Linked DNA regions of Homo sapiens. The protein of the gene in region 1 purifies or fractionates together with the protein of each later gene. This does not show direct contact. Each region holds a gene or a part of one and is shown in the gene's direction. Other genes may lie near its edges.

Region 1 (4,492 bases):
GAAATTATTTTAATTAATATGTGAGACTGTTTTAAAAATAGATCATAAAATATCAACTAATAGCAAAATCAAATGATTACAGTTTTCATTAGCAGGCAAGAATGTTTGTCATTGTTAAGAATTGTTTCTCAATTATATATCCCTTTTTAAATCAGCTAAAGATTTTGATAACTACAAAAAATTATTCTGTCTTTATATTTTGAATTAACTAGGCTTATTTCTTAACTAAAACTTTTTTTTTTCTGTACAGAATGGATGTTCTGGTGTCAATAGATATGAAAGTGTTGGTTGGCGACTTGCAAATCAACAAAGTTTAAAAAATCGAATTGAATCTGTAAAAACAGGTTTGCTTTTTAGCCCAGATGTTGATGAAAAGTTACCAAAGAAAGGTACATTTACATACTACTGTTAGAGTTTTACCTAAAAATCCTGCTTTAGTTGCTTTTTTAATGGCAAAACATATTAATTAATTTACTGTTCTAGAGATTAAAAGTTCATGTTTGAATAGTGAAAATATTAGAATTGGCAATGTATTTTTCTATCAACAATTGGGAAATGCTTATACATGTAAATATGAAAATGTTTGACATTCTTATGTTAAAAATTATTTCTTGTAACACAAATACTTTATTAGAATTAAATGCTTAGTGACTTATTTGCCATGTGCTTGGGTATTATTTCAAAACAAGGTTAAATACAAAGGATTAAGCACTGAACTGCTTTATTTTAGGTTCAGAAAAGATCAGTAAGTCTGAGGAAACCTTACTAACTCCAGAGCGACTAGTTGGAACAAATTACCGGATGTCTTGGACAGGACCTAATAATTCAAGTTTTCAAGAAGTAGATGCAAATGAAGCTTCTTCAATGGTGGAAAATCTTGAGGTAGAAAACTCTTTGGAGCCTGATATTATGGTAGAAAAGTCACCTGCTACTTCATGTGAACTCACCCCTTCCAATTTAAACAATAAGCATAATAGCAACATAACAAGTAGCCCTCTTAGCGGGGATGAAAATAACATGACCAAAGAGACTTTGGTGAAAGTTCAAAAAGCGTTTTCTGAATCTGGAAGTAATCTTCACGCATTGATGAATCAGAGGCAGTCATCAGTAACTAATGTGGGGAAAGTAAAATTAACTGAACCATCTTATTTAGAAGATAGCCCAGAGGAAAATCTATTTGAAACTAATGATTTGACTATAGTAGAATCAAAGGAGAAATATGAACACCACACTGGTAAAGGTGAAAAATGTTTTTCAGAGAGGGACTTTTCACCCCTTCAAACTCAAACATTTAATAGAGAAACAACTATAAAATGTTATTCAACTCAGATGAAGATGGAACATGAAAAAGACATTCATTCAAATATGCCAAAAGATTATTTAAGCAAGCAAGAATTCTCCAGTGATGAAGAAATAAAGAAACAGCAGTCCCCAAAGGATAAACTAAATAATAAATTAAAAGAGAATGAGAATATGATGGAAGGTAACTTACCGAAGTGTGCAGCACATAGCAAGGACGAGGCTAGATCCTCTTTCTCACAGCAGAGTACATGTGTTGTAACAAACTTGTCAAAACCTAGGCCTATGAGAATTGCTAAACAGCAGTCATTGGAAACATGTGAGAAAACAGTTTCTGAAAGTTCACAAATGACAGAACATAGAAAGGTTTCTGATCACATACAGTGGTTTAACAAGCTTTCTTTAAATGAACCAAATAGAATAAAAGTCAAGTCACCTCTTAAGTTTCAGCGTACTCCTGTTCGTCAGTCCGTCAGAAGAATTAATTCTTTGTTGGAGTATAGCAGACAACCTACAGGGCATAAGTTGGCGAGTCTTGGTGATACAGCTTCTCCTTTGGTCAAATCAGTGAGCTGTGACGGTGCTCTTTCCTCTTGTATAGAAAGTGCATCAAAAGATTCCTCTGTTTCATGTATCAAATCAGGTCCTAAAGAACAGAAGTCCATGTCATGTGAAGAGTCAAATATTGGTGCAATTTCAAAGTCAAGCATGGAGTTACCCTCGAAATCTTTCTTAAAGATGAGGAAGCACCCAGATTCAGTGAATGCTTCTCTTAGGTCTACTACAGTTTATAAACAGAAGATCTTATCTGATGGCCAAGTTAAGGTTCCCTTGGATGATCTGACTAATCATGATATAGTAAAACCAGTTGTAAATAACAACATGGGCATTTCTTCTGGGATAAATAACAGGGTCCTTAGGAGACCATCAGAAAGAGGAAGGGCCTGGTACAAAGGTTCTCCAAAACATCCTATCGGAAAAACTCAATTACTACCAACAAGTAAACCTGTAGATTTGTAATTGGTAAATGTTATACTTGTCATTAATGTAAATAAAGTGAGTAATTGGTATGACTTGCAGGATGATGTACATGTTAGTTTGTAGCTCAGGATGATTGTTAAGCAATAGATTTGCTCTATTGAAAATGTTTCATTTTTTTCACTGTACAAGCAACTTAGATTTTTATTTGTACAAATTACTTCTTTGTTTTTCTTAATGATGGCAATTTTTAAACTTTAATTTTATTGTGATCTCTTAAAGCAGAGGTTAGACTTTACCTTTCTGACTCTGTCGTCCAGGCTGGAGTGCAGTGGCGCAATCTCACTGCAAGCTCCACTTCCTGGGTTCATGCCATTTTCCTGCCTCAGCCTCCCGAGTAGCTGGGACTACAGGTGCCCGCCACCACGCCCAGCTAATTTTTTGTATTTTTAGTAGAGACGGTTTCACCGTGTTAGCCAGGATGGTCTCGATCTCCTGACGTTGTGATCCGCCCGCCTCAGCCTCCCAAAGTGCTGGGATTACAGGCATGAGCCACCACGCCCGGCTAGACTTTACCTTTCTAAAGAAATTGTTTACTGGATTTATAAGAAGTTAATTTTTGAAAATGACATATTTTTGTGTGATAGAAAGAATGGAGCAAGTTGTGCCTATTTCCTCCAAGTCAGATAAGGTTTCTAAAATAAATAAATTTCTAGCATATAAAGGGTAGAGATAAACTCTGCAAATCTTATGTCTGGAATTATATTAATGTTTATTGTCCTTGCCAAAATTCCTAGAAATTAATTTCCTTCAATAGCATCCTAAAACTCTATTTTTATTTGGGGCAGAGTAATTTCATTTATAGTGCCAGTAGGTGTACCTTGTGTTCACTCGAACTAAGAACAATGGTTAAGGCAGAATAATGACTAAAATATGTTCATATATTATGATGTGGAAATAATTGATAACTTTTAAGCCATACTATGTTTTTAAAGATAATTTGCACAAACACGTTTGTGTCTGTTCTGTCCAATATAGATTTGGCAATTATTTAAAGAGGGATAATCTTGAAAAAAATTAACCAAGGTGATTTCTTATATGTAGATGCTCGATTTTGGAATTTGAAATAGTAGATGCACCTCTTTACCTTTTTTACTTGGATAAAAACCTATGATGATTTTGTCCTGTGTGTAAATGTTATTTATTTAGCATAGACATTAAAGATAACTCTCTGGAAAATGACTTGACTAAGGCTCTCATGAAATTCAAAGTGCCATTTAGAACATGCACCAAATTGTCAAGTAAATCTGTCTAAATTTATATTTTAAATTATTACAAATTACACATCTTTGAGGAAAGAGTATTATGAACAATAGAACATATTCTCTAGGTTGTAGAGGAAGGAATAAGCAGACAGAATCAACCACTAAAGGTAGTTTTTCAGATTGGTTGTTAGAATGTCATGTTTAGATGTTGGAGCAGATTAGAGCAGCATTCATGCCACTCGGAGCAACCAGACTTACAGCATAAGTATGTACGAGGAATTTCAAATCATCAGATGTTTGCTTGGCTAGGTTCTACTTTGTTTATTTGATATCAAATAGGTTTGTAGATGTTTATGGCATTTCTAATTGTAAGTAGAGACAAAATATTCATATAGTCAGATATATGTTGTCTGCTTTAAACAATTTTTAAATTTTAAAAATGCATTAACGTCTTTTTATATCCATCAAGGGAAGGATGAAATGTTGAATTTGAAGACTAATTCAGTAAGAAGTCCTAGGGGTTTAACTGTACATACTACCTGAACTGGCTTTTCTGAGAGATGAATCAATAATGAAACATGTCTGTTTTAAAAACTACCACATGTGACTCCTATTTTTGTTAGCTGAAAGCTGCTATACGGAGTATTACAGGAATGTGAAGGTGACTAGCTTGAAGGTAGGGTAACTAGAGAGCCAGAAAAGTTTTGTTTTAAACTTGATTTAATGCGTTTTTATTTTTTCTTATACAAAATAGAGATAATGTTGCTAACTTCATGGAATATTTGAGGAAATGATATGAAAGTGTCTGGACGTGCAGTAACCTCATGGGTTCTTCTCACTGTCTTATAAATGTAAATAAAGATCTAATATTAATTTGGTTATCTAATAACAACTTAATACATAGAACTTAGTAGACTGCATGGCCACATTCTATAATATGATCACTAAGA
Region 2 (4,492 bases), on another chromosome or scaffold:
GAAGTCACCTGTCGTAAGAACGTGAGCTTTCCTCTTCACATGCTGCTTATATTCCCTATTAAGTTTGTTTCTTTTCTAGAAAAAATTGAAAGAACTGTCCAGATTGAGGCTTCAACTGTTGAAATTGAAGAGCGAGGGGTCAAGCTACGCCTGACAGTGGTAGATACCCCTGGCTATGGTGACGCTATCAACTGCAGAGATTGGTATGCTCCCCCATGCCCAGGGATCTGCATTTGTTTACTTAATATACTTCATAAATTTATAGATAGTGTTAATGAGTGATTATTAAGTTTGGGATTGCTGTATATAATAAAACACCTAGACAATTTAAAGCGTGTTAAATGTTGACTTTTTAAATAAGGAATTTTATAGAGAGTAATTTTTTTCTGGTACTCTACTGTAATTTGAGATCGCAAAGCCAGTCATCCATAGACTGCTAGTATAAATGAAACACCTGGATTTGAGCCGTGGTTGGTGACCGAGATACTGTAGTACATCCTTTCTATGTGGAAGGAAGTGAAACCTGTTAGAGAGTGGGTTGAGTCGTAGTGTCTGTAAATGACTGCTCATTGGCATCATTTTCACAAATAAGGAAATGAAGAAGTAGAAGATAGAGCAGTCTGTCACCTGTACCGTGCAAAGAATGCCACTTTTGTTGTACAAACTCCCTCCTGGTTCTATTCCTGTCAACATAAAGCATCAGGTTTCCACCACTAGATGAAAAGGGGAAGGTTCTGTTATCTTTCTCCTACATTTAGGAATTTCTCCCTTCTTACATGTGAAAGTGCTGTACTGTTTCCCAGCTCAGTTAAATGCTGTTTCCCAGCTCAGATAAACCTGTTCTTGACCCATGTTCTCTACCACCCTGTTCCTCTGCCCCTTTTCACAGTCACGTTCCTGAAAAGAATTGGCAGCCCTGGCTGGGTGCGATGGCTCATGCCTGTAATCCCAGCACTTTGGGAGGCTGAGGTGGGCTGATCACAAGGTCAGGAGTTCGAGACCAGCCTGGCCAACATGGTGAAACCCTGTCTCTACTAAAAATACAAAAATTAGCCGGGCGTGGTGGCGTGTGCCTATAATCCCAGCTACTTGGGAGGCTGAGGCAGGAGAATCGCTTGAACCCTGGAAGCAGAGGTTGCAGTGAGCCGAGATCACGCCACTGCACTCCAGCCTGGGCAACAGTGCAAGACTCAGTCTCAAAAAAAAAAAGAACGAATTGGCAGCCCTGTCTACACTGGCCCTCTCTCAGGTGCATCATAACCTATTCCATTCAGGCTTTTGACTCTCAGCACTTAGGGGCAGTTATGCTTGGCATAGTTTCCAAAAACTTCCATTTGCCAAATCTAAAAGTCAGTCTTCTGTTCTCATCTTGAAAATGAATTATTAAATTATGTATATTTGGGCGGAGGCACTTGTTTTCCCTTTGAAGTCAGGGACCCCCTGTTTTATACCCTATGATTATTGTTAATGTTTCTGTTTCTCTCAGTTTTAAGACAATTATCTCCTATATTGATGAGCAATTTGAGAGGTACCTGCATGACGAGAGCGGCTTGAACAGGCGGCACATCATTGATAATAGGGTGCATTGTTGCTTTTACTTTATTTCACCTTTTGGACATGGGTAAGTAATTGTTTATCGTGGAGAAATGCTTTACTACATGGGTTTGTAAGTTTTACCCAAACTGTGTATTTTAATATAAGAATTAAGATAATTTGAGAGAGAAGAGTTTTGTATGTATTTTTTTTAAATAAGTGACAATTCTAAAATTAATTTTAGACTTAAGCCCTTAGATGTGGCGTTTATGAAGGCAATACACAACAAGGTGAATATTGTGCCTGTCATTGCAAAAGCTGACACTCTCACCCTGAAGGAACGGGAGCGGCTGAAGAAAAGGGTGAGTGAGGCTGGCGTCCTGCCCTCCCTCTGGGTGCGACTCGGGGGCATGGGGATGAAGAAAGGAGTGTGTTCCCACGCTCAGTCTGCTCAGGTGTCGGGAGGCAGGGCGGGAGAATTTTTCCTGCATTTTAGTGGTGGTTTTCAAGGAGAACCTGATGGTTACAAATTTTAATTTTTGCCTTCATGAAGGTATCAAATTTCTATTCTTTAAATTCTCCTTATATTTAAAATGCCCTCGATGAGTAGCAGTTGGTTACACACAAGTACCTTCCATGGGAGTTAAATGACTCAAATATAGAAATGTGATCTCTCCATGAAGTTTGTTATTTTACCTAAATTCTTTACTGCAAATGACCCATACAAGGATGTATCTAAGTAGACTGGTTCTCTGTTCTGTTTGGAAACATAGCAGTTGTCAGCCAGCGAAGCGCCTCTCACCCGCCAGCAGCTCCTGTGGTGTCCCAGTTTTAGTGCCTCTTCCGTGTATGTCTGTAAAGCCTCTTTATTGATTCTCTGCTATATATTTTTAAATTGCTTACTTTGTTCTGATTATATGCTCCTTAAGAAAGTCCAAATAGTTTATATATGCTAAACTCTAAAAATACAAATCCCTAACTGAACATACCGGTACGTGCATAAAAATACAAATCCCTAAATGAACATACCGATCTGTGCGTGTAATCACAGTTGCTGGGGCAGGGTAGGGGGATACAGCAGGGGGTTCAGGCAGGAGGATCACTTGAGCCCAGAAGTTGGAGGCCAACCTCAGCAACATAGCAATACGCTGTCTCTAAAAAAATATATATATATATTTTATATATATAATATATAATTAATAAATATATATAATATATATTACATATATATTATATCTATATTATTTATATTACATATGTAATATATATTATATTTATATTATTTATATAATATATTATATATATTATATTATTTATATGTAATATATTTATATTGTTTATATATATTATATTTATATTATTTATATATAATACATATTATATTTATATTATTTATATATAATATATATAATAAATATATAATATATATAAAAATATATATATTTAATATATCTATAATATATATTATATATATTATATATAATATATATAATTGTACATATATTTATTATATATATTATATATATAATATATATTATAAATATAATATATAAATATATTTATAAATATATATAAATATTATATTTATACATTATATTTATATACATATTATATATACATTTTTATATATTATATATATATAAATATAATATACATATATTTTTTAAAATAAAAGAGTTTCTAGGCCGAGTGTGGTGGCTCACGCCTGTAATCCCTGCACTTTGGAAGGCTGAGGCAGGCACATCACCAGAGGTCAGGAGGTCGAGACCAGCCTGGCCAACATGGCAAAACTCCGTCTCTAAAAAATTACAAAAGTTAGCCGGGCGTGGTGGCGGGCATCTGTAGTCCCAGCCACTCAGGAGGCTGAAGCAAAAGAATCGCTTCAACCCAGGAGGCAGAGGTTGTTTGCAGTCCAGCCTGGGTGACAGAGCAAGACTCCGTCTCAAGAAAAAAAAAAAAGAATTTCTGTAATTACCCACAGAAAGAACAACTGTTAAGTATATATCCTTCTAGAACATAGCTTATGTTTTTGGTTTTGCAGAATGAAATCACATAGTAATACTATTCTGCCATTTGATTTTTCTATTTAAAAATATTTGGAAGCATCCTCATATATATACTGTATCCTAATTCTTCCTGGATGCACAGCATTCCACCATATGAATATACTCTAACTTGTCCAGTTTCCTGCTGATGAATATTTGGCTTACTTTTTGTTTTACTCTGGCCCCTTTTCTTCTTTGACCAAATTTACTGTTTCTTTGCCCCTTGCTCGCTGCTTTTGCTAGTGATACCCTCTGCCTGGAACAGTCTTCCCTCAGATACCTGTGTGGGGAACTCCCTCACTGAGCCCAACGCTGCACACAAGATTTCACATCTCCATCCCCTGCTCTGCTGGTAGCACTCCCCCCACACTGCATAAAGTATTTCTCTAGCGTGTTTTTTGGCTTCTCCTGACCCCTGACCCCAGGTCCTGAGATCAGGAATCTGCTTTGTTCACTTATGTATTCCCAGAGTTCCGAATAATGTCTGGCACATAATAGATTTGTTGCATAATTGTTGTAATGAACACTGGTGTACATCTATCTTTTCACAATTGTGTGAGCCAAACGAATTCTTAGGAAATAAGTATACATTTAAATTTTTGAAGGATGACTAAATTTGCTCTAAAGTAAGTTTGTAACAATTTACATTTCCAAAGTGTACTCTTCTCTCCACCCCCTAAAACTGTCCTGGTTATGTTGCCAGTTTTTGTAATGTGTTTCCTGTCTGAGAAATTGTATCTCATTTGAATTTGCCTTTCCTTGATTGCCGATGTGAGTATCTGTGCTGGTGTTGATGCCGGTTGGTGTATTCTCTCAGGTTGCAGGGACTTGGCTCTTGCTTTTTTATTGACTTAACACATATACTTATTTTTAGATGTTGACTATCACGTTGCAGATGATTTCACCTGGTTTGA
Region 3 (4,492 bases), on another chromosome or scaffold:
ATACACTTTCCAATACATTCCAATAAGTGTACAGGAATACACTTTCAGTACTATTTTGGGTTTGTCTGGGGGGTAGTTGTTTTTTTTCCTCCTTATTTGAGATGTGTTTCCTTAATGCTGTATTGGCGGCCGTGAACTTTGTTTGGAATCCAGTCTCTGTAGTCTGGAAATGTGATTTCTGGCAGTGTGCTCTGTTTTGACACAATCTTGTCATAACAACATGGGTTTCATCACAGTGGGGTCCCCCTTGTTCTCTCTGGGTGTGCAGATGGTCGTGTCCTTTGATGATGATGCTGGGAAATGGGGAAGGGCTTTCCAGGGGAGAACATAAAAGTTAAAAGAGCTGTAGTGCCGGGCACCTTGGGTGTAACTATGTTCCTCCCTGGCTTCTCCCTCTAATGTTCTTGGAACCTTCCCTGTGTAGAATCTGAGCCAGGAAGAGACTTGTGAGGTCCCAAGTTCCTCCCTCCCTGGAGGCAGGGGATAGGACATGGAAATCATCCCCAATATATCTCTGACTGGTTGAGGCTTCCTCCTGGCTCCCCAGGAGAGTTGACACAGTGCCCTTTCTCAGATCCCTGTCTGTTAACCAAACATTTCAGCCACTGCTCTGCAGAGCTGCCCATTTCACAAACACCTCAAAGGAATGTTGGTTTGAATGGAGATCGCCCTCTTCTCCAGTTTTGGAGCCTGGGAAAAAAGAGCTGCCTTTGGAAAAAGCTTGAGTTGGTTTTGTGGTTTTTTTCCTTGCAAGGCTGGTTGACTACTGGACTAAGCTTGGAGGTTGTATTTCCCATGGGAGGGCTCAGACTGGGAGAAAGAGGCCCACTCTCTTGTGTGCATTTGTGGTTTTAACTGAATTACTTCCAAAGTGCATCTTTTCCCTCTTGCGTTCTACAAGATGACCTACCAGCCAGGGCCCAGAGGGAGCTGGTGTTGGTTCCTGCCAGCAGCTGTGACTACACAGTAGTTACCTTTTACTTAATGCCACCCACTCTTTCTCACCCCTGCCTTATGTGGGGCGTAAGAGAAAGGAACATTCTGTTTTAGTTTTGCAGTGCTGTCCTAGGAGCTCATGATTTGGTACATGAGAATTAAGTGAAAAAGCTGGCAGTAAAGGGGGATAAGTTGGAATTCGTGGGATAATCTAGTTTCTTTTCCTTGACTGTAGGAAAGGTACTTTGAGAATCAAGCTCTCTCTCCACCTACTGTAACATACACACACACACCCCTCTTAGCTTTCTCTGACATGGAACATTGGGGAAGGGGAAGAGTGGGAGTCCCATATGGACTGTAGCTATGGACTTGTACATTGGTATTGGTTCTTAATATGGTTTTCATAAATGGGCTTTAGGAGGTTCATAAACCTGAAAAATTTTCTGCAAGATTGTGAGTATATATGTTTCTCAGGAGAGGGTCCATAGCTTTCATCAGATTCTCAGAGAGTTCTCTGATTCTTGAAAGAATAAGAACCTCTGCTTGGGATTTGAATCTTGGATAAGTAATAAAGAAAAGCAATAGCTGACATTTGTTGGGCTCCTACTACACACTAGGCATTAAGAGCTTTACATGCATTTTATTTCATTTGTGCCTCCAAACTCTGTGAGGAAAGTGTTATGATTATCCTTCTTTTACTGATTAGGAAATGACAGCACAGAGAAGTTACCACAATTAACCTGGAGTGATGCAGCTTGCTGGAGCTTGGACTTGAACGGAGATAATCTGATTCTAGAACTTGGGGGCTGTTAGCCATTCCTTAGTAGGACATCCATGCCAAGCCAGATGGTTCTAAGCAACTGGCTTTAAAGTTCCTTTGCCTTCTTCATTTCATTGCCTGAGTTCTAGTATAGGATTCTGTAGGCCCTGAATTCGTACTGTTTGTTAACCTTCGTGTTTTTGTATTGGGATGGGTGAGAGGAGGAAGATGCTTTTTGGGAGTCAGATCTGTTTAATTTTGAGCAAGTGTCTTAGTTTTTTTGTCTTAGTTGTCTTTAATGTAAGTCCTAGAACTCGGAGCCATGGCCCTCAACACAGGGTTACTGTGAGCATAAAGTAAGGTGATAATAGATGTGAAAGAACTTTGGGAGCCGTGAGCTCTGTGGGATTATGTGCTAGGATGGTGACATCTCTTGTGCTTTCCTGGGGACAGTGGGCAGCCTCAGACCTCAGAAGGACAGCACCTGCTTGGTCCAAAGGGTATGAGATTCAGGACTGTTTGTCTAAGCTGTCTGTGGTCAAAAGTACATTCTGGACTGAAGAGATGGTGATGTAACTGGGCTGTGTGTGTATTGAAAAATCCCTCTTTGCTCTTTCCTCATTTCAGGTTTGTCCTTTGAGTCAAGTTAAATATTTATTGAGCATTTCTGAGTACAAAAGTGGTGTATTGGAGAGTTGGGAGGGATTACAGAGGTAAAGCCCTTGCCCTTATAGAGTGTGTGGTCTCATTGAAGAGCAAGAACAAAATGTGCATATGTGAAGAGAGATGTATGGTAAGTTCAAGTGGAGCTAACACTTGGGTGCCGGCTGGAGGGTTTCAGGAGAGAGATTGGGACCTCGGGCTGGGAGAATGGGGCAAAGCAGCTCAGGTTGAGGAATTTGGTCAGTTTGGATGGGTGGAAGGAGTTGATGGTGCAGAGCTGAAGATGGACACAACTGAGCAGGCTGGGGGCTCTAACAACAAGATATGGGAGGACCAGGAGCCACCGAGAGACTGTCACCAGCATGAGGAAGATTGGTCTTTTAGTATGAAGTTCAGGATGGGTCAAAAAAGGGAGCTAGATACCAGATCAGGTCATGTATCGTCTCTGAGCACTTTGTTTCTGCAGTTCAGATGAAAATTAAATATGTTATTGTCAGCAGTTCTTGAACATTGGGCTGGATTGGGCAGATTATATACCTCGTTCTACCTGTTGGACTTGTCACGTGGGGTTTGTATCAGGGTAGTGGGAAGGTCACATGTTATTTCTCCATTTTTTTAGTTCCAAATATATAGCCATCTCTTGACCATACATTGCACATTGAAGTGCTCAATACATACTTACTTTTTCTTTGACATGTGTGGTTGGGGAATGCCAGCTTCTGTTATAAAGTCTAGTTTTAGGCAATAATTTCCATTTCCTCAAGCACCAATCTTTTCACTTGAGTTACTAATATCTTCCTCCTTTCTTTTCTGGGGTGCCCTATTGTAGGAGTGCTAATTATCAATATTTTAACCATAAGGTAGCAGGTGTGAGGAGGCTGTGTTATCCACAAGTGGAGTAATTAATTCTTAAATAGTAGAAAATAGGCCCTGTAAATGAGAAAAACCTTTTTATATATTTATAAATAGCAGCAACCATGTTCTTTCACTGAACTTTTTCTGCTTCTCCCATCAGCATACCAGGAGTCAGATTGGGATCGCCCAGGTCCTGTGTGGTGTCTGTTCTGGGCTTAGGTTCTTAAGAGAGAGACTCATTGGCTACAGCAGTGGGAATGGACAGAGAATAGAAAGTGTTCTTAGGTGTTGTGCTTCAGAGGGAGCCTGGATCATGACCCGCAGAGAGGCAGGTGTCTTTACACCTTCCAAAATTGACTTGAACCATTTCTAGGGGAAGCGTGTGGGTAGGAAGTCAGGGGGTGGGGTTGAGGACCTCCAGCTTTATACTTTCCACTGTCTCTATTGTTTGGGTGTTTTTGCCATGACCTTTTATAATAATGAAAAAAATTTAATTATGGTACTAATTCAGTAAATTCAGTTGGAAAACAATAGATTTGGAAGTCCCAGTTTGTTACTACAGTTCCACAAATACTTGCCAGCTTTATAACTGATTTTTCTCTGTCCTGGAATTCAAGCAGAATGACATCCTTAACTCCAGGCTGCAGGTACTCTGTACGTGTGTCACCTCAGATGGCGAACCGGATTGTGGATTCTGCAAGGAGCATCCTCAACAAGTTCATACCTGATATCTATATTTACACAGATCACATGAAAGGAGTCAACTCTGGGAAGTAAGTATCTGTGTTTTTGAAGTCTGTTTCTGCAGCTTTTTCACATGCCTGTTCTAGTTGAAGTTAAAACTGCCAGCTCTGAGGTTGCGCAGCCAGAGGAAGAACAATTTCAGAATTAATTTCTTTCTGCCTTATTGCCGTTGTCACCAACAGGCATTTCTTGAGTGCCTGTCACATGGAAAGCATCCCAGTGGCTAGAGCTGGAAGCTAAGGGTCTGGTTCCTAGCCTTGGGGAATTAAAACCTTTATCTATTAATACACAATGCTTTAGGCTTTAAATTCCATCTGCACTCTGTTCCAACAAAAAAATTAAAGTGGACAGGTTCTTCCACCCTGAGTAAATAACAGTATAGGGTTAAAATCTTTTGTTATCTAAGTGTAAGTCAGCATCTCTCTTCATCAGTGGAAACAACATATTTACATCCAGAGAAAGTTGTTATTGCAGACGTGAATTTGGTTTAGTGAAAGCCTTTGCTTTGCTAAAAAATAAAAATTTTAAAAATTA
Region 4 (3,500 bases), on another chromosome or scaffold:
GAGACTCCGTCTCAAAAAAAAGCAAATAGCACAGCTGTAATTCTCCTCCATATCCCATCCCCCCGCCGGCCCTGCATGATTGGAGTTAATCAGGACTGGGGTTTTGCCAGCCTAGTAGAGAGAAGTACCTAGAGGAGCAAGACATTTGAGTGTTTGCAAATAATGTTAACAGATCATGAATTGAAGGTGAGGACCTGAGTAAAAACAGGAGGGGGTCATGGATAGGGAAAAAGTAGTCAGCGAATTAGAGAGATACCACTGACCCCAGAGGATTTTTGCAATGGGAATACTAGAGTAAGTAAGGTGTTAGAGAATGAGATGCTTGAAGTGAAATTTTGAAAGTAGAACAGTTACTGGTAGTGATAAGGTCTAGGGTGTAATCGTAGTGGTGGGTGGCTGAAGTGAAATGATTATTGGAGTTGAGGAAGTCAAGGAACCAACAGGTCAGTATTGAAGTTACTGAGAGGAACAACGGGTCATGTAAAAGTCCTCAGTGAATGAGGCCAGGTGAATAGATGCCATAGTGAAGAGGAAATGTGGAAGACTAATAGTGAACTGCTGGGTGGCAAGAGCTTTAATGGGACTAGACTATTTGAAAGAGGAAAGAGAAGACATGGTTTAGAAGCTGCAGTGAGGAGCAAGGAACACATACCTCCTGCTTTTCAAGTACAGGGGGTACAAGAAGTTAAAACAACAACAACAAAAAACCTTGAGAAGGCCGTAAGAGGAAGAGTATGATGAGGGAACAGCCAGGTACCTGGGAAGACAAGCAGGTGAAGAGAATTTTCAGAGAAGCAGTTGCAGTTACAGGTGAGTATGATCACAGTTCCAGAGAGCATCCTGAAAGGATTTGAGAGGGAGAAGAGGTAGGGGATTAGGTCTTACTGGGAGACGTACACATCGTTGATAATTGATAACCTAGCAGTCTTGTGATTTTGGCTGTCACTCAGATAAACAAGGCTGGGAGATGTGGTGGGTTTAGCAGCCCCTGTCAGCCTCTTATGAAAGGTGGATATTCAGTTTACCTTAGTTTGTTGATGGCCTTGAGTAGTGGTAAGAAATTATTAGGTAACTCGGTGGCCTTCTCTCCTACTTGCATAGTTAGCCAGGAAAAGCTCATTTATTTTAGGGAGCTAAAATCTGAAATGTTGCTGTGGAGTTGAACTTTGCTAATGAATATTTTCATAACTTCTGCTTAATAGCACACAGTTCCAGGTTCTAAATCCCATTTTTAAAAAATGTATATATTTTATTTTATTTATTTTTTAGATACAAAGTCTCACTTTGTTGCCCAGTCTAGGGTACACTCTAGGGTCTCACTCTGTGCCCAGTCTAGTGGCGCACTCATAGCTCACAGTAACCTCGGACTCCTGGGCTCAAGCAATTCTCTCATCTTGGCCTTCTGAGTAGCTAGGACTACAGGTACATGCCACCAGCCAGTTTTCTTATATTTTTTTTTTGTAGAGACAGGGTCTCACTACATTGCCTAGGCTGGTCTCAAACTCCTGAACTCTAGCAGTCTTCCTGCCTCGGCTTCCCAAAGTGCTGGGATCACAGGCGTGAGCCACCGTGCCTGGCCTGTAGATGTGTTCATGTTATATTTTCCTGAAATATATGTAGTAGGCATCCCAATTTGCATTTCATCAGATATATGTTGAAGCGTGCATCAGGTTCTATTTAGGGAGTTGCAAACATATGCCACCTATGTTTTTCAGTTGCTCACATTCCAATGCAAGGGTTCTTAATGTTAAACTCCCTGAAAAGTTTGTGAATTTCTACGTGTATATGTACTCTTGTTTTTTGTTTGAGTGTGTTGAGAGTTGGTGGGGGAGGGGGAGGGTCCATAGGTTTTTATCAGATTCTCAAGGGGATCTATTTAAGGACCACTGGTCTAATTAATGGGAGAGAAAGACATGTAAACTAATCATTGTAATACAGTGAAATCAGTGCCATCACAAAGCAAGATAAAAGAGGAAGAGATTCACCTTGAAGGATGAGTTCATTAATTCCTAAACATTTATTTATTGAGGAACTTGGATGCAGTAGTATCTGTTATAGGTAATTTATACATTATTTGAAATACTTCAACATTGTTTTTACATGTATACTAATACTAATGTTTTATAGACTGAGATACATAGGTGAGGAAAGTTTAATTAACTTGCTTCAAATCACATAGAAGTAGATTCATATATGGGTCTATTTGATTGCAACATTCACTACCCCACTAGGGAGCCACTAAAGGGCTCATTGTGTCTAAGATTATCTTTGTGCTTTTAAACTTGGCAGTGACTTAATAAACTTGCTTTCACTTAAAAAAAAAAAGTAAACTTGGCAATGATGGAAATGGGCCTTTAAACTGCTTTTCGTGTTAATGGAATTTCTATGCACTTAAAGATTTGAAATAATTTTAATCAATTTGTTTATTATATATGCCAGACTGTGCTTTTATGTTTAATTATGTTTTCATTTCATTTGAAAGACTCTTCTAGCTTGCTGTTTCTGGACCAAAAAAAATGACGTCTATTATCAAATTAACTACCCTTTCTGGGGTCCAAGAAGAATCTGCCCTTTGCTATCTTCTCCAAGTTGATGAGTTTAGATTTTTATTGGACTGTGGCTGGGATGAGCACTTTTCTATGGATATTATTGATTCCCTGAGGAAGTAAGTTACATTTCATAATTCTATGTTTTTATTAAATCAACTTCTCTTTTCTGTACTGTAATACCATTTCGATGTGATAAATACTGCCTTTTTACACTAGTTTATAGCAAAAGGCTTAATTTTACTTATGCCAAAAACCTATAGTGACATTTTAACTTGTAAAGTTTTGATTGACTTATAAGCTTTGCTTGTTGAAATTCAGCAAAATCTTAAGCTAATGGATTTCAGTAGAAACTTTTGCATGCTAATTTTTGGAAAGAACAAGAATACATAAGAATTTGAGAAGAGGAAACATTTTCCATGTGAAAGTTCTGTGGTCAGATCACATTAGCTTACTTTCTACATCTTTTGATGCTTAACATTGTCAGCTGGTTCTCAGAATGACCATGAGATACTGATTCATCAAAAAAAAAATCAATTATGGGCTGGGCACAGTGGCTCACGCTGGCAATCCCAGTACTTTAGGAGGCTGAGGTGGGCAGATCACTTGAGTTCAGGAGTTCGAGACCAGCCTGGCCAACATGGTGAAACTCCAACTCTACTAAAAATACAAAAATTAGCCGGGTGTGATGGTGTGCACCTATAATCCCAGCTACTTGGGAGGCTGAGGCAGGAGAATTGCTTGAACCCAGGAGGCAGAGATTGCACTGAGCCGAGATCGTACCACTACACTCCAGCCTGGGCGCAAAGCAAGACTCTGTTTCAAAAAAAAAATAAGATAAAATAAAAAGTCAATGATGTTTGCAGTATTATACTAATTTTGCAAGAAAAGAGGACTTAAATATTTAAAAAACTTTAGAACTTGAGAAAAAAAATCCAAACCATTTTATTAATT
Region 5 (4,492 bases), on another chromosome or scaffold:
TGACATTATAGCTTAATTGAGAAGACAAAAGCTTCAATAGCCAGATAAGATTTAAGTCAGTATGTGAAAATGGCCTTCACAGAAATATAAACAGGAGTTCCACTGTGCTGTGTGTGAAAGGGAGAAGCTAGAAGCAATGAATATAGGCTGTGCTTTCTAGGTGTTTAACTCTGGAAGAGTGGCTGGTGGGAAGTGATCTGGACACTTGAGAGGTCAACTGGAAAATGATGAAAATTAACCTGGTAATTGGTGTCTATTTCTGGTCCCAGAAGAGATGCAAAAATTTTATGCAGAATATGCATGAAATTGTTCATCTCACCCTATAGTCACATTATTCTTTGAGATTCCAATTAAGTGGTAGCTAGAATCATTAGATGCTTTCTGTTCTGAATATTAACCTTATAAATATTAACTTTGTCCTCATAATAACTATCTGAGGGTAGGTACCCTTATCATCATACCCATTTTACTGATGAGGAAACTAAGATATCAAAAGAGTAAGTAACTTGCCCAAAGTGATTTGGCTGCCAAGTCATGGATTCAAGCCCAAACCGGCTGGCTCCAGAGCTTACACGCTCACCACTGTGCTATATTGTTTCTTAAGCCTTCAATTAAAAAGTCAATCGGAATTTTCAGAGATACATACTAAGTGTGCAGGAGTGAGGTGACCTGAGGTCTGGGATTGGTTTAAAATAATTCAGCAAGTCTAAGGAAGGAAGGAAGAGCCAATTATGCTAAAATCTTGATAAATGTTTACTCTGGGTGATGTTTATAATGTTTATAGGGGTCATTATAGCATTCCCTAATTTCCGTAATAAAAAATAGGAACTGTTTCTAGTGAACTTGGAGATTTTGAAATACTTATTATTGTACTGTTAATATCAAAAGACTTTTCAGTTATCTGGGTAATTTAGATCAAAGCAACAAATTTCACTGTTATTAATGTAATGTGGCCATGAAATGCAGTGCCCTTTTCTGTATATTAAAACCTATTTTCCACCTAATCCCCAAGTGTAACAGCTAAATACCTTAAAAAAAATCAAGAAGGGTGTATCCTGCCAAACATATTTGATAGAATAGCAAAACGTTTGAGTTAGAAGAGACCACAAAGATAACTTCTTCCAAAATTCCCATTTAACCGCTATGGCAGTTAAAGCTAGGAGAATTTAAGTGATCAGCCCACGATTGAAATGGGAATATGAAACGATGATCTATAGTCAGTCACGTAGCCAAGTACTGGAAGAGCAGGAGTTAAAAACCTGGGTTTCCTGGACTCCAGGCCTTTGTATCTCTCATCAGAAGGAGGTTGTGCCAGTAAAGGGCTAAGCAGCCCATATGGAAATGTGGACACCAGGCTTCACTTGTGATTCCTGCTACATCAGGCAGTTGCCAAGTTAGAAGCCTGGGATGTAAGATGAAGAAAGGTGAGTCCCCTTCGGCTTGGAACTGGAAGAGGTCAAATGGCCCTTTCCCCTCCCAAACGGAGCCATGCAAGCCCCATTTATCTTGTGTGTTTTATCCACATTCCTTGTTCACAGGTTTTAGCCGCATCAACCACAAAGGGCATAATTGGAAAAATCATAATTGTTATACTTGAAGATACTTCTCAGAAGTGCATTTGGGGCTCTGTGTCAATAAACCCACCCCATGAAGGGCCAGAAGCCAGGGCCAGGCATTTCTTGGGAGGGAGGGATGGAAATGGTCTTGGTGAGGGTGCGTAGAGTCACCACACCACTGTTGAATTAATCACTGACCTCATCTCTCCATCCTGAGGATTCTTGGAGGACATTGCGAGAGCTAAAATCTCCTCATTCCCAAGGCTGGTGTGCACCTTTTCCATTGCCTTTGTTGGTGTACACTTCTTAAGGTCTGGGAGGCCTCAAACCCCAATGTTTCAGGACCCCAGCAGGTGAGGTAAATGAATAAAGCTGGCCAGTGTAAGACCGGGGCAAACTGAGAAGAACAAACTTCATCCTTATTCAAAGGTTTTATAACACTGGGCTGTCTGCACAAAAAGCCTGGGCAGGTCAGCAGACAATTGACTTCCTCTGCTATAGAGGATAGACCCTGGTGAGGAAAGCAGGAGGCCTGGGTACCATCACTGGCTCCCTATGACTTGAGTACAGCCTTCCCTTGGCAGAGCCTCAAGCGCTTTCATCTGTTAAGAAGTGGGTCTGTGAGTCTCCAAGGTGCCACCACCTCTGACAGTCTAATTCTGTGATCTGTGATAGAATACATATCTCAAAACAACTGGAGCCACTGTCGGTCTGTCCAACATATATTTGCAAAATGCGTGCTGTGCCTGTTTGATCTAACTGACTTTTTGGAACTTGGTGTCCTTGAGATCTTTGGATGGGTTTGTGCATTAACCTTAAGTGCTTTGATCCCTGTAATATAATAAAATGGCCTACACTTAACCATCATTCTGGTACCACTCTCTGTGTCAGAGGTTGTTGCTCTTTTATTTGCCAGTTTTCTTTCTAAAAGCAGTCATGAGCAGACAAGCTTAGAAAGGGTATTTTCTTCGTGTTGTTTCAGGGAAAATAGAGAAAGTCAAACCTCCTCCATCCCCCACCACTGAAGGCCCCAGCTTGCAGCCTGACTTAGCCCCTGAAGAGGCTGCCGGAACCCAGCGGCCCAAGAATCTGATGCAGACCCTCATGGAAGACTATGAGACACACAAATCTAAAAGGCGCGAGAGAATGGATGATAGTAGTGTAAGTTTTTCCTCCTTTCCTCTTTCACTTCTCTGAGCGCGGCCATCGGTGTGGCGTGTGGCATTCCAGTTCAGGCACAAATGTGTATGTCGTTGTCTGGTCAGCATTAGGGTTCCAGTATCAGTTTTCATATATGTGGTTTCACATGCCTGGAACTGGGTTTGGGTTTTTGCCTGTTTCAAAAAAAAATTGTTGATCTTGCAGGGAGCTGGTCCTTTGCTGCCAAGTATAGCTGGAGTCGACCAGCAAGGCTAGTGTGTAAGATGTTTGGTGCATAGAAAGACAGCATGCAAGGGCCACGCAGGGAGAAGGTTGCAAGTGCCCTGAAATCATCCCTATGCACCTGGGAGCTGATTTCTACCATTGCCCAGTAGAGATTTTATTTCTCTAGAAAAGGATGAAGATGCTGTTCCTTCAAAGCCGACACTCTAGGCAATCCCTAACAATGTTACAGTGCTTAAAAGACTGAGTGTGTTTGGGGCTGTTAACAAGCCCATGTGCATAGCTTGAAAGCAAAGAGCCAGTGAAAATGACAGTTGAAAACCACATGGCTACTCTGCTACACCCAAGCCCTCGGAACTTTGCACATAACGTTCAAATTAACTGTGAAGGAAGTCACATGCTCTGTGGTTTCTTTCTCCGGTTAGAGACATAGGAACTGTTGCTCTACACAGTCCCAGGAGCCTGGAGATCAGCCTCAGGGTTCATGCCAACCTCCTGTGGGTCTTCTGGCACCAGTCTCTTAGCACATATTGAAGTCATCACCTCCTCCCCTGACTGCACTTAAGTCACAGATAGCTTGGGTTGGTTGAGGATCCTACTGAGTTTACCTGAGACAGTCCTGGCTTATGCCTGTTGTGGTGTTGTGGTTATTAATATCCCCTTCAACTCTTTTGTTGTTGTTGTTGTTGTTGTTGTTGAGACAGGGTCTGTCTCTGTCACCCAGGCTGGAATGCATTGATGTAATCATGGCTCATTGCAGCCTCGACCTCCTGGGTTCAGGCAATCCTCCCGCCTCAGCCTCCTGAATAGCTGGGACCACACGCGTATGCCACCATACCTGGCTTATTTTTTAACTTTTTTGTAGAAAGGAGGTCTCATTATGTTGCTCAGACTGTTCTTCAACTCCTGAGCTCAAGGGATACTCCCACCCCAGCCTCCTAAAGTGCTGGGATTACAGACATGAGCCACTGCACCCAGCCTGCCTTTCACTCTTGAAAGTGTCCCAGTTTGGGTGATAAACCATCTGGTCACCTTAAACTTGAATGCTATGAAGTTCACAGTAAGAATTCCCTGCTGTTTTATTGCCTTTTATATCCTAGCTGGCTAAGTTAAAGGATTTCTGGAGTTGAAGCCCAGATGCTGAAAGTTGCTTTCAAAATATATGGCGGTAAAGAAAGGAAGAAAGCAAATGGATATCTGGCAGCCTGGCTTCTCACTTGGCATCTCCCAGGCTTTCCCTTTTGTTTACACCTGAACTGCGTGGAGCACTGGCTCAGCTGCTGTATTAGGCTGCAGCTATTCTACTGGGCTCTTCACTGTATTAGACAGTGGGATGATGCCCGGCCCTGGGTAGCTGCTGCAGACATTTCCACTGCTGAACCTCACTGTAGGGGAGCCAGCAGCTCCTTTCGTGAGCCTGCAGGATTTTTCCCTGGCTACTCAGTCACTTTCACCAGCCCTTCTTTGAAGCCCCACTTCAAAGGATAAAGTTTGCCTTAAGAATTTTCTGAAAGTTAAATCATTTTGAAACTTGGTGCTCTAGGTGTCTGGTT
Region 6 (4,492 bases), on another chromosome or scaffold:
AAGCCTTAAACATAAACCGAGAGCTTGATACACTATATTGAGTGGTGAATATTAAAATAGTTTGCTTTTTGTAAGCTGGGAATCATACCATTTTAGTGTTGGAAGGTACCTGAAATATTATCTAGACCAGTCTTTCCCCATTTCTCACACACACACACACACACACACACACACACACACACACTCCCTCTCTCTCTCTCTCTCTCTCTCTCTCTCTCTCTCTCTCACATGTTCACATGAAGCAAATTGAAATCTGTAAAGGTTGAATGACAGTAGTGAATTTAGGACTAAAAATTCATGTTTACTCATCTTTTCCTGTACCATTCTATTTTCTCTGATACCTTATAATCTATTCTGAGGATTTACAATGCAAATTCATTTATTTCCTGAAGTTTAGGGAAAAAACCCTGAAAATGTTAGTTTAATTTGTATTATTATCTTTTTACTTTTAACTATAAGTAAGGCACCATTGCCAACCAGAAAACAGGTTGAGCATCCCAAATCTGAAAATCAAAAATCCTAAATGTTCTAAAATCTAAAACTTTTTTGAGCACTAATGTGAAGCTCAAATGAAATGCTCATTGGAGCATCAGATATCAGATCTTCAGATTTGGGGTGCTGAACCAGTAAGTATTTTAAAAATCTGAAATACAAAACACTTCTGGTCCCATGTATTTTAGATAGGGGACGCTCGTACTGGAAAAGAAATTTTAAATTTGTTTAAAAAGTGACAATATATTTCTGTTTTACAGACCTCTGTGAGTGAAAGCCTTCAGAGGGAAGCTGCTAAGAAGCAGGCCATGAAACAGGTAAGGTAGAAGACTGGGATAAGTGCATTCAGTGAAGCATTCCGGCTCATTTTTAAGCATCAGTTTTGGTATCTAGGTGCTGAGACTAAAACAGAATAGATTTAAGGAAAAACACAATGAAGAATTAGCTCCTTATTGCTGTGCTATAGATTAAACCAGTTCTGCTTGTAGATGACTCATTAGTCTAATAATGGATTGTTTGGCCTGTTGTTATTATTAAATTCTTGCTAGTGAGCTTACTTGCAGGGAAAAAAAAAACCTTTTCACAACCAAAATGGTTTCACAAACTTATAATTATTTGAAACTCATCTGCCCAGAAAGAAGAATATCAGAGATAGATACAAATATATAGATATATAGATATATAGATTTTTTTTTTTTTTGAGATTGAGTCTTGCTCTGTTGCCCAGGCTGGAGTGCCGTGGTGCACTCTCGGCTCACTGCAGTCTCCATCTCCTGGGTTCAGGCAATTCTCCTGCTTCAGCCTCCCGAGTAGCTGGGACTAAAGGCGCATGCCACCATGCCCAGCTAATTTTTATATTTTTAGTAGAGACGGGGTTTCACCGTGTTGGTCAGGCTGGTCTGGAACCCGTGACCTCAGGTGATCCGCCAACCTCAGCCTCCTGAAGTGCTGGGATTACAGGCGTGAGCCACCGTGCGCGGCCTGATAATTTTTAAAAGACGTGCTTGTTTCCAAGTGCTTTTTACATACATTTATCTTTTACAGTTCTCACAAACTTGCCCATAGTACTGATTAAGAAATCTGAAACTCAAAAAGGATAAAGTGCTCCTTAAGATCATACTATTAATTATCGAACTAGGCCTGAAGGTTTACTAATTTTTCTGCTATTGTAGACTAGTATATCTTAGATTTTCTGCTATAGAATGTAATGAAATTAAACAATAGCGAGGTGCCTTTGTTTTTCATTTTGAATTATTTATCCTCTCCATTAGCTTTATAATTTTTGGTCCTATTTCCTCTTTGTCTAACTGGAAACCTGCATAAAGATAAGTTTATTAAGCACTTTCTATGTGCCAGGCATCATGACAACTATGTTTTAAGAATGATCTTTAATTCTTACAATAATTCTATGAGATAGATGCTTTTATAATCCTTATTTTATAGTTAAGGAAATGAAGGCAAGAAGAATTTATGTGACTTGCATGAGACCACATAGTTAATAAATGGTAGGGCTGTGTTCAAAACTAGACAGTGAAACCTCAGAACCTAGGCTTTTAACCACTGTGTTTCACACCCTCCCGGACGAATTGGCACAGAAGGATATATTTAGTCATTTTAAGATAATGTCAGAGTTTCACAGTGAAATATAATGTGTAACTCAGCAGCCTCAGAATGATTTAATATACACATAAAACATAAAAAACAGTGATTATTTAACATAAATACTGGAGTGCTTTGAGTCAGAATTTTGGAGATACCATTAAGTTCAACTTCCTCACTATATAAATGGGAGACTTAGTTCTGGAGAGTTGGGTAACTTATCCAAGGTAATACAGGTATCTTGTTTTCCAGGATTATTTTAACATTTTTGTGCTGCCTTTTTTTCTTCACTTAAAGCATGAATCCCAAATCTGATTTTATTCTTAACTCTGTCTTGTTCAAGCCACTTTATCTGTTTAGTGGGACTTTTTGTAGTTTGCTTGGAAATTAGGAATGCTGCTACAACTCTTACACCTTTCACCTGCTTTCTGCTGATTTTTTCTCGCACCTATATTACATACTTTTCCCTTTGTTCCCCACTTGATTGATTCAGCTCATCGAATGTCTTTATCCATACGAATTGAAATTATTTTTCATTTTACTATGAAGAATACTAGCTTGATTGCATTTACTAAATCTTAGAGAAAATGCTTTTTAAAATGGGGTACTTTAAACTATTTTTTTCTTCTATGTGGACCTCAAGTTTACAGAACTGATGATGGCAACATTATTGTCATATTCCGTTTCATTGGGAAAACTTTCAGTATGTCATCAGTAAATAAAACATTTGCTGTAGGTCTCTGATAGATATTTGTTGCTAATCTAAGGAAATTATTTTCTTAGTTGGAGGGTTTTGTTGTTTGTTTATTTGTTTAAATGGTGAACTACATACAAAAAGGATACTGCTTCATGACCATGTTGGTTTTATACCAATAATGTAAAGTCAGCTTAACTTTAGAAAATCAATCATTGTAACTTCACATAAGTGGTATAAACTTAACATAAGCATAAAATGTTATCATTTTCATATATTGTTGCATTTGGCTTACTAAAGCTTCATTAAGAGTTTTTAAGTATTGAAGATTTTTGCATCATAAGTGAGACTGGGCAGAATAGGATGGTTTCCTTTTCTTTCGCTGCAATTATCTAGATTGAAAAAGTCTGATAATACCAAGGTTTGGCGAGCCTTATACAATGAGCTAATATGATACTATATACATTTTGTTTGTTTCTACTTCATTTTCTGTCCTGACAGATCAGTGTGTTCTTCATTCTGTTTTCTTTGGGTTTATTTTGTTATTTTTCTAACTTTTTGAGATTGCTGCATAGCTCTGTTTTCTGTTCTCTTTTCTAATATATGCATTTAAGGCTATATGTTTCCCTCTAAGTACTTCTGTAGCTGTATCTTACAGATTTTGATAGGCAGTATTTTTGTTGTTTCATGCAAAACATTTTCTGATTTGCATTATGATTTCTTGTTTGACCCATCTATTATTAATTTCTGAACATAACGGAGGTTTTTGATTACCTTTTTGTTATTCATTCCTAATGTGATTACTTTGGTTTTTTGCTTGTTTGTTTTTTGGGGTTTTTTGTTTTGTTTTGTTTTGTTTTGTTTTTGTTTTTGTTTTTGAGATGGAGTCTTGCTCTGTACCTAGGCTGGAGTGCAGCGGCACGATCTCAGCTCACTGCAACCTCCACCTCCTGGATTCAAGCGATTTTTCTGCCTTAGCCTCCTGATAGCTGGGATTTCAGGTGTGCATCACCACACCTGGCTAATTTTTATATTTTTAGATGGCCAGGCGCTCTCTTCACCTCAGGAGATCCGCCCGTCTTCGCCCCCCAAAGTGTTGGGATTACAGGCATGAGTTGCCACACCCAGTCCCTAACATGATTATTTTGGATTCCAAGACACTGCACTGTATTGTTTCATTCCTTTAAAACCTGTAGAGGTTTACTTTATGGTCCAGTATATAGTCAGTTTTTATAAATATTTCCTCTGTGTTTGAAAATGTTCTGTATTGATACAAAAATTAGCCGGGCATGGTGGTGTGCACCTGTAGTCCCAGCTACTCAGGAGGCTGAGGCAGGAGAGTCACTTGAACACAGGAGGTGGAGGTTGCAGTGAGCCAAGATGGTGCCACTGCACTCCAGGCTAGGCAACAGAGCAAGACTCCGAACCCCCCCCCCAAAAAAAAAGAAAAAAGAAAATGTTCTCTATGTGTCCATTGGGCCAGTTGTGTTAATCCATATATATTCATACTGTTTTTTTTTGTTGTTGTTGTTGTTTTGTTTTGTTTTGTTTTGTTTTGTCTGTTCTGTTACTGAGAGGCATATGTTAAATCTCCCACTGTGATTATGGATTTGTCTATTTTTCCTTGAATATCTGTTCAATTTTTGCTTTATTTATGTTGCAACATAGTTAATAGTAACATATCTACTCAAGTGCTCCCCTACAGCT
Region 7 (4,492 bases), on another chromosome or scaffold:
ACCCAACAATAACAGATGCAAGTCTGTCGCTCCCAAGCAGAAGAATGCAAAATGACACAGCAGAAAATGAAACTACCGAGAAGGAAGAAAAAAGTGAAAGTCGCCAAGAAAGATACGAGATAGAGGAAACAGAAACAGTCACCAAGTCCTACCAGAAGAATGATTGGAGGGATGCTGAAGAAAACAAGAAAGAAGACAAGGAAAAGGAGGAGGAGGAAGAGGAGAAGCCAAAGCGAGGGAGCATTGGAGAAAATCAGGTAGAGGTGATGGTGGAAGAGAAAACAACTGAAAGCCAGGAGGAAACAGTGGTAATGTCATTAAAAAATGGGCAGATCAGTTCAGAAGAGCCTAAACAAGAGGAGGAGAGGGAACAAGGTTCAGATGAGATTTCCCATCATGAAAAGATGGAAGAGGAAGACAAGGAAAGAGCTGAGGCAGAGAGGGCAAGGTTGGAAGCAGAAGAAAGAGAAAGAATTAAAGCCGAGCAAGACAAAAAGATAGCAGATGAACGAGCAAGAATTGAAGCAGAAGAAAAAGCAGCTGCCCAAGAAAGAGAAAGGAGAGAGGCAGAAGAGAGGGAAAGGATGAGGGAGGAAGAGAAAAGGGCAGCAGAGGAGAGGCAGAGGATAAAGGAGGAAGAGAAAAGGGCAGCAGAGGAGAGGCAGAGGATAAAGGAGGAAGAGAAAAGGGCAGCAGAGGAGAGGCAGAGGATAAAAGAGGAAGAGAAAAGGGCAGCAGAGGAGAGGCAAAGGGCCAGGGCAGAGGAGGAAGAGAAGGCTAAGGTAGAAGAGCAGAAACGTAACAAGCAGCTAGAAGAGAAAAAACATGCCATGCAAGAGACAAAGATAAAAGGGGAAAAGGTAGAACAGAAAATAGAAGGGAAATGGGTAAATGAAAAGAAAGCACAAGAAGATAAACTTCAGACAGCTGTCCTAAAGAAACAGGTACAGTAAACATTTTGCACCAAATGTGTGATGCCTGTGACTTGTGAGAAATGTAATGCACATCTGATTTGGGACTGAGGCCACATGCATATAGCTCACATGCTTGATCATTTGGCAAGCTGTTCATTTTTTCAGGCCATAGCGATACACAAGCATGCAGCAATTGATTGATGGCTGAATATTCAATCAACCAAATTTACTGGGACAGCCAGTAAATTTGGCTGTCCAGAAGACAGAGAGAAATTAATTGCTCTGTGCTTGATTGTTATGAATACCCAAAAAAAGAATTAATCCAAAGATGATAAATGTGGTGGTGGTGTGTTGGCTTCTGATTCTGTGCTTGCATCTAAACTCGTTCTTTTAATTATCTTTCCTCTATCCATAGGTCTGCATGAGGCAAGAGGCCCATAACTCCTTACCTCACTCATGGGTTTGACGTTGAATTAAAAAAATGATAAAAGCTGGGGTGGGAAAGAGACATGAAGAATAATGGTCAGACATTTCATCTTAAGAAGGCAAAAACAGGCTGGGTACAGTGGCTCACACCTGTAATCCCAGCACTTTGGGAGGCTGAGGTGGGTGGATCACAAGGTCAGGAGATCGAGACCATCCTGGCCAACATGGTGAAACCCCATCTCTACTAAAAATACAAAATTAGCTGGGTGTACCGGCACATGTCTGTAATCCCAGCTACTCAGGAGGCTGAGGCAGGAGAATCACTTGAACCTGGGAGGCAGAGGTTGCAATGAGCTGAGATTGTGCCACTGCACTCCACTGGGCAACAGGGAGAGACTCCATCTCAACAACAAAAACAACAACAACAACAAAAAGGCAAAAACAAACCCCTGGAAATTAACTGGTAATAAAGAGGGGGAAAGGAACTGGTTGGAAACTTTCCTTAAAAAAAAAAGTCAAAACCCTGATTTGCCAACATGTAGACCTCAGCTTAATGTAGACTTGCAGAAAGCCATTAATTTAGGGTAGTATTGATTTATATTTGACTGGTAATTAAGAGCATACATGCTGCTTCTTTATTATCTGGGTGACACAAATTCATGTGGCCTGAGGAAGGGTGGAAATAGTAGGGGGGAAATGTTTGTAAGCTTTGAGAAAGATTTTTTTTCTGTCTGCAAGACTGCATTGAAAGCACTGTACCTAATCACCACCACACCACCACCACCACTCCTAAAAAAAGAAAAAAAGAGATGCTTTCACATTCACCTTTCCAGAGCAAATTCTCTGTCACTAAGCCTGCATTGCACTGAAGGTATCTTTAACTCCTGCTTCTGTACAAGAGGCTCATGAACACAGCTAAAATTGAGACCATGAGCAAAGTGCACCAAACCACACACGAGGTTTGTAAACACACGAGGAGTGCCACATCATGCTAGATTTCAGTGAGCGCAATGGCAGGCACACGAGAAGATGTTGGGGTGGGAAGAAAATATCCCACCTTGCTGTTTAGAACCACTGTGCTGTGAGCGCTGAGACGGCAGAAGAGAAGCCATCCCACGCAGCACTTGCAAGGCGATCCGAGCACCCTGTCACTCTTGTAAACTAGAAAGGGCTTCTTTTACTTGTGTGACCTTACCATTCTTGAAAATAAAAAGGGAGAAGAGAAGGGAACTAAAGTGCAAGCTAAAAGAGAAAAGCTCCAAGAAGACAAGCCTACCTTCAAAAAAGAAGAGGTAAATATGATTGAAAAGTAATGATCGTAAAGCAACAGAAAAAGCAGTCAGTGTTCCAAGATATCTCAGGTCTGATGATCTCAAAATTGTAACCTCATATCCAGTGTATTTCAAGCCATGACTCACAGTCCACTGAATAGTGAGATCAGCTTAGAGTGTCTCAAAATTAATTAAATGTATCAGTCAGCATTTTTTAAAAAATGAAATGGATAGAAGCCATCAGAGGGCATTGTAGGTAGTAAGTATTGCATTGTCAGGTAAATTGTCTTTTTTTCTGTGGGACGTCATCAAAAAGGCTTGAAAAACACTGCTGGAATCAATTTATCCTGTTTTCTATTCTTCTGAATGCTAATTTTTTTTCCTTGAGCCATTCTACTTTCATTTCAATCATGAAATATTTCCAACTGGCCTTGATTAATGCTTTAACTTTTCAAAGGAAAAACACCCACACACATCTCAGTAGAAAATATGGTGAACTGAAGATGATATTTGGTTTTCAAAAGAAAAGTTTGGCCAAATGTTCTGCATTGCATTTCTGAGGCACACACAGGAGCGGGTGCCAGGGTATTTGACTGTAGGTAAGTGAACAAGGAGCTATACAGATAGAATGGCACGGGGTTTGACAGTAATCAGAACACCACATCAGAACACTTGATTGCACTTCAACTCTCATGCTGTGTTTGCCCCAAATAATCTTAAAAATTGTGACTATATCGAATAAGTTCACAATACTTATTAGGATGTGGTGAAACTGAATTATTTGAAGTAGGAAGACCCGAAGTTCTTCGCCTATGAGACTGGTGAAGTGATTTGTAGCCAACATGCTCCAACCCATCTATTAAGAAAACTATGGCATCTATTAAGAAAATTCAAAATCTTAAACAGAGAAATCCATATTTAGAAAACATGGCCAGATTAAATAGGGGGTGGGTTATTTTCTTAAATACGTTTTGTCAATTTCACGTGAAAAATGAAAACCCCTAGTTCATGTTACATATTACATTTCTGTTAAGATGTATGTTCCTCTGTTTCTAATAGAAGTTGTGGTGGTTTGGAAGTGAAAATTGAATGTGAGCACAGGCCATGTAAAGGAAGGAGAAAGTGTAAATGTTAATAACAGGAAAACTGAATTTAGCTCTCATGAGGCAGTCAAGGAAATCATTCATTGAACATGTTGGGAAATACTTTTCATTTGGTGACCAAATACCTACAAATTCATTTACAAAAAAGAAAAATGAAAGTTACCTCAGAACTAAACTCAGAAATATGTCCCACATGGGTTCTTGTAATGTTTCTTGGTGAATGTCTTTATAGAAAGAAGTGGGCATGAAATGATGACTCAGTAATTAAACACATGGGGGAAGGGAGGCTGTAGAAAACACTGGATTCTATATTTAAAATTTCATTCAGTTCACTAATTTGTTTTTACTGACCAAAGCTTTCTATACCTATGTAGAGTGTCTGAGAACTAGAAGGGCCCATCAGTTGCCACTCGGATGATCCTTTTGTCTCTTTTCAGATAAGGCCCCAGTTCAACAGCGTCCTCTGTGTCAATCAGATACTCCCAGGAATGAGTGAGCCCTGCCGTTTTCCCAAGTTGCCCCTCAGCACATTCCAGCCAGTTCCAAAACTTTTGGCTTGTTTTTGACACAAGGCCAGATAAGCTACTCAAACTGGTTTTTTTAAAAAAAGAAAACAACCCCAATCTATATTCCTTTTTTAATACTGTGTACATAACCTGCTGCTCGAAAGACTAGGTTTTCCCCTTTCCAGCTAGTTGTGTTGTTTCTTTATGTAGACAGCTTTAAATCATGTTTACATGATTCAGCCATTTTAAACAACCTCTTCCTATTTTTTTTT

What was found.
Region 2: the proteins of ARHGAP11A (region 1) and SEPTIN2 purify together in Homo sapiens (affinity purification with mass spectrometry, with the first as the bait; one large-scale study listed by BioGRID). This does not show direct contact.
Region 3: the proteins of ARHGAP11A (region 1) and RCL1 purify together in Homo sapiens (affinity purification with mass spectrometry; one large-scale study listed by BioGRID and IntAct). This does not show direct contact.
Region 4: the proteins of ARHGAP11A (region 1) and CPSF2 purify together in Homo sapiens (affinity purification with mass spectrometry, with the first as the bait; one large-scale study listed by BioGRID). This does not show direct contact.
Region 5: the proteins of ARHGAP11A (region 1) and PALM2AKAP2 purify together in Homo sapiens (affinity purification with mass spectrometry; one large-scale study listed by BioGRID and IntAct). This does not show direct contact.
Region 6: the proteins of ARHGAP11A (region 1) and NSRP1 purify together in Homo sapiens (affinity purification with mass spectrometry; one large-scale study listed by BioGRID and IntAct). This does not show direct contact.
Region 7: the proteins of ARHGAP11A (region 1) and CALD1 purify together in Homo sapiens (affinity purification with mass spectrometry; one large-scale study listed by BioGRID and IntAct). This does not show direct contact.

The regions. Positions count from the first base shown.
Region 1 is NC_000015.10:32,635,527-32,640,018, forward strand, and holds the end of ARHGAP11A (rho GTPase-activating protein 11A), read left to right. Parts: intron 1-250; coding exon 251-389; coding exon of another isoform or gene 390-412; exon of another isoform or gene 413-655; intron 656-730; coding exon 731-2,319; 3' UTR 2,320-4,415; downstream 4,416-4,492. UniProt on the Homo sapiens protein: GTPase activator for the Rho-type GTPases by converting them to an inactive GDP-bound state.
Region 2 is NC_000002.12:241,335,896-241,340,387, forward strand, and holds part of SEPTIN2 (septin-2), read left to right. Parts: intron 1-63; exon of another isoform or gene 64-79; coding exon 80-203; intron 204-1,486; coding exon 1,487-1,621; intron 1,622-1,777; coding exon 1,778-1,895; intron 1,896-4,492.
Region 3 is NC_000009.12:4,837,371-4,841,862, forward strand, and holds part of RCL1 (RNA 3'-terminal phosphate cyclase-like protein), read left to right. Parts: intron 1-2,397; exon of another isoform or gene 2,398-2,489; intron 2,490-3,831; exon of another isoform or gene 3,832-3,835; coding exon of another isoform or gene 3,836-3,861; coding exon 3,862-3,987; intron 3,988-4,492. UniProt on the Homo sapiens protein: As part of the small subunit (SSU) processome, it plays a role in 40S-ribosomal-subunit biogenesis in the early pre-rRNA processing steps at sites A0, A1 and A2 that are required for proper maturation of the 18S RNA.
Region 4 is NC_000014.9:92,128,469-92,131,968, forward strand, and holds part of CPSF2 (cleavage and polyadenylation specificity factor subunit 2), read left to right. Parts: intron 1-2,482; 5' UTR 2,483-2,516; coding exon 2,517-2,665; intron 2,666-3,500. UniProt on the Homo sapiens protein: Component of the cleavage and polyadenylation specificity factor (CPSF) complex that play a key role in pre-mRNA 3'-end formation, recognizing the AAUAAA signal sequence and interacting with poly(A) polymerase and other factors to bring about cleavage and poly(A) addition.
Region 5 is NC_000009.12:110,153,781-110,158,272, forward strand, and holds part of PALM2AKAP2 (PALM2-AKAP2 protein isoform 3 (PALM2-AKAP2)), read left to right. Parts: intron 1-1,299; exon of another isoform or gene 1,300-2,423; intron 2,424-2,538; coding exon 2,539-2,717; intron 2,718-4,492. UniProt on the Homo sapiens protein: Binds to regulatory subunit (RII) of protein kinase A. May be involved in establishing polarity in signaling systems or in integrating PKA-RII isoforms with downstream effectors to capture, amplify and focus diffuse, trans-cellular signals carried by cAMP.
Region 6 is NC_000017.11:30,171,790-30,176,281, forward strand, and holds part of NSRP1 (nuclear speckle splicing regulatory protein 1), read left to right. Parts: intron 1-752; coding exon 753-809; intron 810-4,492. UniProt on the Homo sapiens protein: RNA-binding protein that mediates pre-mRNA alternative splicing regulation.
Region 7 is NC_000007.14:134,933,134-134,937,625, forward strand, and holds part of CALD1 (caldesmon), read left to right. Parts: coding exon 1-944; intron 945-2,554; coding exon 2,555-2,632; intron 2,633-4,492. UniProt on the Homo sapiens protein: Actin- and myosin-binding protein implicated in the regulation of actomyosin interactions in smooth muscle and nonmuscle cells (could act as a bridge between myosin and actin filaments).